Linked DNA regions of Homo sapiens: region 1 is reported to be linked to region 2. Evidence: microRNA targets listed by miRTarBase, many of them from high-throughput screens and not tested one by one. Region 2 holds a microRNA gene; the other region holds the end of a gene's coding sequence.

Region 1 (4,000 bases), not on the chromosome of region 2:
CTCACGCTGTCCATGGCGGTGGCCGCCGAGTTCCGCGACTCGCTGGGCGACTTCATAGAACACTACGCGCAGCTGGGCCCTAGCAGCCCCGAGCAGCTGGCGGCTGGCGCCGAGGAGGGCGGCGGGCCGCGGCGCGCGCTCAAGAGCGAATTCTTGGTGCGTGAGAACCGCAAGTACTACCTGGACCTCAAGGAGAACCAGCGCGGCCGCTTCCTGCGCATCCGCCAAACGGTCAACCGCGGCGGTGGCGGCTTCGGCGCGGGCCCCGGGCCGGGCGGCTTGCAGAGCGGCCAGACCATCGCGCTGCCTGCGCAGGGCCTCATCGAGTTCCGCGACGCGCTGGCGAAGCTCATAGACGACTACGGAGGCGAGGACGACGAGCTGGCAGGCGGCCCGGGAGGCGGCGCCGGGGGCCCAGGGGGCGGCCTGTATGGAGAGCTCCCGGAGGGCACCTCCATCACCGTGGACTCCAAGCGCTTCTTCTTCGATGTGGGCTGCAACAAATACGGGGTGTTTCTGCGAGTGAGCGAGGTGAAGCCGTCCTACCGCAATGCCATCACCGTACCCTTCAAAGCCTGGGGCAAGTTCGGAGGCGCCTTTTGCCGGTATGCGGATGAGATGAAAGAAATCCAGGAACGACAGAGGGATAAGCTTTATGAGCGACGTGGTGGGGGCAGCGGCGGCGGCGAAGAGTCAGAGGGTGAGGAGGTGGATGAGGATTGAAACGGGCAGCTTCCCCTACAGGCCTCCACCCAACCACCATCCCCTTGGCTAGAGAATTCCCTTTCCTGCTCATCCCCAGTGAGCTAGTGGAGAGGGAGCAAGGGAGGCCGCAGAGGGAAAAAACAAAACGTAACACAGTTAAGAGAAATAATCGTAAGAGAACAGTGACGGACAACTTGAGAAAAGCAGTCAAGTTCCAAGGAACTGACAGCAACCTGCAAAGAGGAAAACAGCATCTCCTCACCTGCGTAAAATTGTCTCAGCTTCTGTTGTTTCTCAACTGAGGTTCGTAAACCCATCAGGATAATCCCTGGAGGGAATAGATCCTTGCACATCCAGGGCAAGAAACATGTCCAAGTTACCCAGACCATTGATAACAGTTGCATTTAGGTTGCACCTGGGTAATCTGGCATAAAAGATCTCTCTAGGCCTCACTGTTGCGGTGTCTATCCCTTCACCTCCATTGAAATCAGCATTTTGGATCTAGGTCTTCATGGAATCCTTGAGAAGAGAGGCCTTTACAATTACCCAGTTCTGAGGGTTCAGGTTCACGAAAAGAAATGCAACTTGGGATAATCATGAACAGGTTAAAGATAAGATTTCAAGAAGCCATCTAAGAATACAGAACCAAATTGGATCCATTTTTTTAAAAAAATGGTTTTGCATGGAACCTGGACCAAGGCAAATGTCTTTTCTTCGCAGAATTGTTTTCCAGGATGCCAGTGGATTCAGATAGCAATGCTTGGAGTAGAATCCGTTACTAAAATAGTTTCAAAGTTGACAAAAAATTTTCAAAGATAAAAGCAGTTTTACATTGGGGGTTGCTGAGGTAGGCACAAGAAAAAGTCAGGCATAAAGCACAAGGCAGACTGTTTGAGTGGATTGGTTGCTGCTCACTAAAGTTGTTCCCCTGATCTCTAAATATGGAGGTCATTACCAAGAAATGCTTTGGTATGAATGAGAGCCAGATCTCCACTGTGTGAGCCAGTGAATTATGGCTAATTCGGCTGTTACAGCCACTGGTTGGCTGGATTTTAAACCATAAAACTTGAAGATTACCTACAAAAGTAACAGTGTGGCTATAAGCCTGAGCTTTAATGGATATACATCCTCACAGAAAAGTTGGAAATAACCAAAACTGAAGTCTTAATTTACCTTCAGTTTAATCTGTGGATTTGTTCAAATACTAAAGATCCTCAGGTCCAGAATTCCAGCATCATTTATTCTTTTAAAATTTTTAAGAACTTGATCCATTGTATCAGTACCTCACAATCAGAGTTGGCAAATGATGGATGAGTGATTCAAGCAGTGCACCCGGTGGAAGCTGAAATCCATCTGTGAATGGAACTGAAGTGAACGTGAATATGCTGACTATATCCTGGAAGCATTTTTATACCATCTTGAAATTTCAACAAACTGGCTTTTGCCAGTTAATCCAGCTGTCTTTCAAGAATAAAAGTTGGGGTTTTCAAGGATCGCCTCTTCTATATTTTAAATGGATTTTCAGTAGAAATGATTTTTACTAATCAAGTTAATCCCACCCCATCAAAAGGTATTCCTAGAAATGTCATAGACCTAGGTAACTTTGAATTGAATGGGAGCTAACGTTCTTTCCAAAGTTTTCAGGTATTCTTTGTGTGACACCTTCTCAACCAGGAGGCAAGTAACCCCGCCTCCACAATCTTAGTATTTTTTTTAAACTGCATGCCTGCCCCTTATTTGAGCTGCCTTTTTAATTTATTGCATATCCTTTTTATTATCTTATTTTGGTATTATTCAATCTATACAATCTTTTTGTATTTATTGGGAAATGAGTAATATACAAAAAGGTTTTCATGTATTTGTGGCTGAGAGGGCGGGAAATAATTGTGTACATAAAATTAGGCTTTTTTAAAAAAATAGATTATGATGCAGAATATTGTTGATCTTAGATTAAAAAGTGGAAGAGCCACAAACATTGGTGCCCTTTTCAGACTATTTCTCTACTCTCATCATCCACAGTAGAATTTTTAAACAGATTTTTTTAAAGCTTTTCTTTTAAATTTTTCTCCGTTGCAAAGAATGTTTCCTAAATTGTATGGGAGCAATAGTATTTTTGATGTTTTAATGACATCCGTATACTTGTACTGTATTTTGTACTACAAGGCAGCTGTTTTTCAATAATGTCCTGCTGTATTTACCTACGTGTTTTGAGTGTCTATTTCTTTGCTGCGGAGAACAAATTCCTAAATAGTTTTAGTAAAGGAGCTGAGAAGCTAGCATTAGGTTTGCAGAAACTATTTAAGTTTCAACTCTGAGGCAGCAATGAAAATTTAAGTTGCAGCTATTAGTTGATTGCTGTAACTTTTTCATTTTCAAACCATGTACAATTCTTGTATAGACCAACTTGTTTTCTTGCTTCAGTGGTGGTTCTGTTGCTCAGCTGCAGTGAGCCAGTTCAATTTTGCAAAGGTGCAGTACCTCTCCTTTTTAAGGGGTTGGTTTATTCTTTTTTCTTTTTGTTTGGCTGAATTGCAGTAACTAGCCTTGCCTTTCTATTCTGTAGAAATGACAGGGTCTTCACAATCCTTCACCAGTGGCTACTAAGCTATAATTAGCTGAATAGAAAGAATGTGGAAGTGGTCTGAGGCATATAGAGTATATGCCAAGAACACTACCATATATGGCATCAGCTTTGGTTACCAGAGAAATTTTCTTAGTCATTAGACCATGTAACAGTAATATATCATATGTAAATCTTTAGATATCAATTTGAAAATCCTCCAAAAAAAGGAGCAAAGAATGCATAAGCTATGTGTTGGCAAAAGTAATTTATATTAAAATTTTGACCTGCCTATGTAAGATTAAGTGGTAATGTCATAGTGGTGGGTTTTTAAGTCTTAACCAATCTCTAAGGTTTGTTTCTCCTGCAAGGGATGGTTCATGGCCTCTCTTCCCACTGCAGGAAGATTGCAGAAGGCTGTGGATTAATTGTAGCATTTCACTGATCTTCACTCCAGTCACTAGGGACAATAGAAACCTGCAAAACACAGATTCATTCGTAAATATTATTAATAGCTTATTAAAGGAAATGGTCTTTGTTAATTCCAGTCAGATAATGGCATTGTACAGACATGGGAAACAACCAATTTTTTTGTTTTTCAGTTGTTGCTATGAATGATTTTGAGCCTTTTTTTTTAAGCTTGGCAAACATCCCAGCTAATCAAAATAGTCATATTCCTGAGAAGTAGGAAACTAAAACTTCTTTTCATATAATTGTTAGAAGGTTTGTTTCCCA
Region 2 (4,000 bases):
GCTGAGGCAGGAGAATCACTTGAACCGGGGAGACGGAGGTTGCCGTGAGCCGATATTGCATTATTGCACTCCAGCCTGGGCAAAAAGAGTGAAACTCTGTCTCAAAAAAAAAAAAAAAAAAAAGTTCATCGGCTGGGCGTGGTGGTTCATGCCTGTAATCCCAGCACTTTGTGGGGACAAGGTGGAAGGATCACTTAAGGTCAGGAGTTCGAGACCAGCCTGGCCAACATGGTGAAACCCTATCTCTACTAAAAATACAAGAAAATTAGCCAGGCCTGGTGGTGCATGCCTGTAATCCCAGCTACTCAGGAGGCCTAGACAGGAGAATTGCTTGAACCCAAGAGACAGAAGTTATAGTGAGCCTAAATTGTGCCACTGCACTCCAGCCTGAGTGACAGAGCAAGACTCTGTCTCAAAAAAAAAGTTCATGAGACTGGATTCTTTCATGTGCCCTCACAGCCCTAAAACACCTGGACTTCTCTAGCAAATCATTTGCAGGAACTGTTTTAAGCAAAATGTTTCTTCTAAGATGTCTGATATTTTTAAATGGCTTTTTTTTTGGCTTCCCTGTTCCAAGGTTAGACAGAAAAAATGTAGCAAGTATTGGCCACTTTAGGTACAACACAGATTTCTCCTATATTTGGAGAGTTAATTATTAAATCAAGAGTGTGAGTATTCATTTTCAGTTGGAGCCCTATGGAAGAACTGCTTTGCTCTGGGCTCTCTCCATCTGTACGTTATCTGATATTTAGCTTTATATCACTGGGACATGGTTGCTGCACAAAGAGAAGACAGCTGGCCTGCCCTGGGAGCAGGGTCCCACGAGTTACAAGAGAGTCAGAGAACAAACCAATGTTGTCAAGGTTACACCTTCATTTCCACTGTTCTTTGTTTGAAATGTTATCAGAGCTGCCAGGCACAGTGCCTCATGCCTGTAATCTCGGATATTCAGGAGGCTGAGGTGGGAGGATTGCTCAAGGCCACAAGTTCAGGACTAGCTTGGGCAAAATAGTGAGATTCCATCTAAAAAAATATTATTTATCAGTAATTTTAAAACAAAATTAACTGGGCATGGTGGCACATACTTGTAGTTCCAACTGTTTGGGAGGCTGAGGTGGGAGGATAACTTGAGTCCAGGGGTTGCAGGCTGCAGTGAGCTGTGATGAAACCACTGCACTCCAGCCTGGGTGGCAGAGAAAGACCCCATCTCTCTTTTAAAAAAAGTTATCAGTAGCTCAAATTTCATTAGCTACTTTGTGAAGATGTGTTGATTCTGCCATGAAAGATTTTCTCTGAGAGTCCTATCTGTCTGGCAGCTGGGGAGTAAGTCACCTTATATTGATCTTAAGATTATGGAAGCCTGGGCACGGTGGCTCACGCCTGTAATGCCAGCACTTTGGGAGGCCGAGGCAGGTGGATCACTTGAGGTCAGAGTCGGAGACCAGCCTGGGCAACATGGTGAAACCCTGTCTCTACTAAAAATACAAAACTTAGCTAGGCATGGTGGTGGGCACCTGTAATCCCAGCTACTCAAGAGGCTGAGGCAGGAGAATCACTTGAACCTGGGAGATGGAGGTTGCAGTGAGCCAAGATTGAGACATTGCTGGCTGACAGAGCAAGACTCCATCTCAAAAAAAAAAAGGGGGGTGGGTATGGAAAAGAATGTAATATTTGTGGAATTGCTATGGTTTAATGTACTTTGTATTTTTCTTTTTTTGGTTTCTTCATAGCTCCGTATACTATTATCACGTTCCCTTTTCTATTTGCTGTGATGTTTGGAGACTTCGGTCATGGCATTTTAATGACCCTTTTTGCTGTGTGGATGGTACTGAGGGAGAGCCGGATCCTTTCCCAGAAGAATGAGAATGAGGTAATGTTTAAGTTACATCTGCATTGAACTGAAATTTTATAATTTCCCAAGCATTCATTATGAAAATTATGATCTGGAAGTCTTTTATCCATGAATTTATCAAAAGGAAGTAGAGAAGTTATGTTCATTTTAACACCAAAGACGACATGTGCAAGCTGGAAGTGGTAGTGTGTGCCTGTAGTCCCAGCTACTTGGAGGCTGAGGCAGGAGAATCACTTGAGCCCAGGAATTCGAGACCAGCATAGGCAACATAGTGAGACCCCATCTCTAAAAAAATAAAAATTATTTAGGTTTGGTGCAAAAGTTATTGCGGTTTTGGCTGCCAAAAGAAATGGCCAAAACCGCAGTAACTTTTGTGCCAACCTAATAAAAAAATAGAGGCCACATCCTGTGAAAGTGACTGTCTCATTAGCATTGTATTTTGGTTTTTACTTCAAGCTCTCTGAATCAGGATGGGGTAAAGTAGTGCTGGAGAAAGGGGCAGGTATATTCTGAATAACATTGTCACAATGTGAGCTGCAGTGAGTACATTCTCATTACTTCTTTCTTCTGGTTCCCAGATGTTTAGCACTGTGTTCAGTGGTCGATACATTATTTTATTGATGGGTGTGTTCTCCATGTACACTGGCCTCATCTACAATGATTGCTTTTCCAAGTCTCTTAATATCTTTGGGTCATCCTGGAGTGTACGGCCGATGTTTACTTATAATTGGACGTAAGTTGCAGAAGAAGCTAAAATTCAAAGCTTATTCCTTTCATGTGCAGCCCTGATTTTTAAGACAAGTGGTAAACTGACACTTCTTTAGGAAGTGGTGACAGTGTCTCCTCATTCATGCTCCACACTGTGAGTTGCTTTGTGATTTGTTCAGCAAGTATCCAGGAACTAAGATTAGAAATGATTTTTTTTTTTTTTGGAAACTAAAACCAGATTCCCCAGTTCCCTACTTGATTGTGTGTTTGTGTGTTTAATTTTTCTTTTTGTCATTTTGGATCCCTCAGTCTCAGCTGCTAGTCTCTCCTCTTTATTTTTCCCCTCCCATTTTATTGAAGAGACAAGATAGCTACAGTAATTTATTTTGGGGTCAGTTTCTGGACCCTTGTTGTTTCCCTCTCTTGTTCAAAAATAATGTGACTTTTTCCCTGTCATGGTAGTGAAGAGACGCTTCGGGGGAACCCTGTTCTACAGCTGAACCCAGCCCTCCCTGGAGTGTTTGGTGGACCATACCCTTTTGGCATTGATCCAGTAAGAGGACTTCCTTCCTATATGCTAACCTCAAATTTTTTAACACTAACCCTGAAGCAAGAGAATTAAAATGAAGATAAATAGTTATGTGGGCTTTCACTGGGCATGGTCGCTCATGCCTGTAATCCCAGCACTTTGGGAGGCCGAGGAGGTGGGATCACCTGAGGTCAGCATGGTGAAACCCTATCTCTACTAAAAATAAAATATTAGCCGGGCGTGGTGGCGCATGCCTGTAGTCCCAGCTACCCGGGAGACTGAGGCAGGAGAATCGCTTGAACCTGGGAGGCAGAGGTTGCAGTGAGCAAGCTGCACTCCAGCCTGTGTGACAGAGCAAGACTCCGTCTCAAAAAAAAAAAAAAAAAAAAGAAAGAAAGAAAGAAACAAACAAAAATAGTTATGTGGGTTTTCGTTGACATATTTTTGGGAAACCTTGATGTATGTATTCAGAGGACTTCTAAGCCATAAGAGACCCAAGTGCCTTGAGGAGCCACATACTTTTCCCTGCGCTGCTTATTTCTGAGGTGGTTAATAATATCGACTCTGGGAAGATTGATTTTTCAAGACTCCTTCCCATTTCTTAATTTATTTCTGCTTACTTAGTTTGGTTTTTTATTTTTAGCAGACATTTTAGCAAAGCAGAAATATATTTTTCCTGTGGATTTTAGACTTGCATTCTTATATTTACGAACTTACAAAAACTTATCCGAGAATTAATTTTTTTTTCAAATGCTTAGGCAAATTAAGTATGATCAAGTCTTCTTTATTGTGTGCTGTAAAAATGGAGTGGCGGCAAGAATGTAATACAGGGCATCTGACTGCTGAGGAAAAAAAAAAATAATACAGGCTGGGCGAGGTGGCTCATGCCTGTAATCCCAGCACTTTGGGAC

What was found. The annotated mature microRNA hsa-miR-548at-3p reads CAAAACCGCAGUAACUUUUGU and lies in region 2 at 2,207-2,227, shown strand. An mRNA with a match to its seed (bases 2 to 7 or 8) in the 3' UTR can be bound and repressed. Matches are read on the target gene's strand: a 7mer-m8 pairs with bases 2 to 8, a 7mer-A1 pairs with bases 2 to 7 and ends in A, and an 8mer does both.
Region 1: miRTarBase lists PURB as a target of hsa-miR-548at-3p. The part of its 3' UTR that is shown has no 7-base or 8-base seed match.

Annotation. Positions count from the first base shown.
Region 1 is chr7:44,881,133-44,885,132 of GRCh38, reverse strand. PURB (purine rich element binding protein B) reads left to right here. Exons shown (of 1, transcript NM_033224.5): 1 at 1-4,000. The coding sequence ends at 723. It overlaps MIR4657 (microRNA 4657), which reads left to right and starts at 3,333; the gene lies at 3,333-3,385. RefSeq lists a silencer at 64-113 and an enhancer at 1-531.
Region 2 is chr17:42,492,604-42,496,603 of GRCh38, forward strand. It overlaps MIR548AT (microRNA 548at), which reads left to right and starts at 2,170; the gene lies at 2,170-2,227. It overlaps ATP6V0A1 (ATPase H+ transporting V0 subunit a1), which reads left to right. Exons shown (of 22, transcript NM_001130021.3): 12 at 1,731-1,870; 13 at 2,431-2,585; 14 at 3,023-3,113.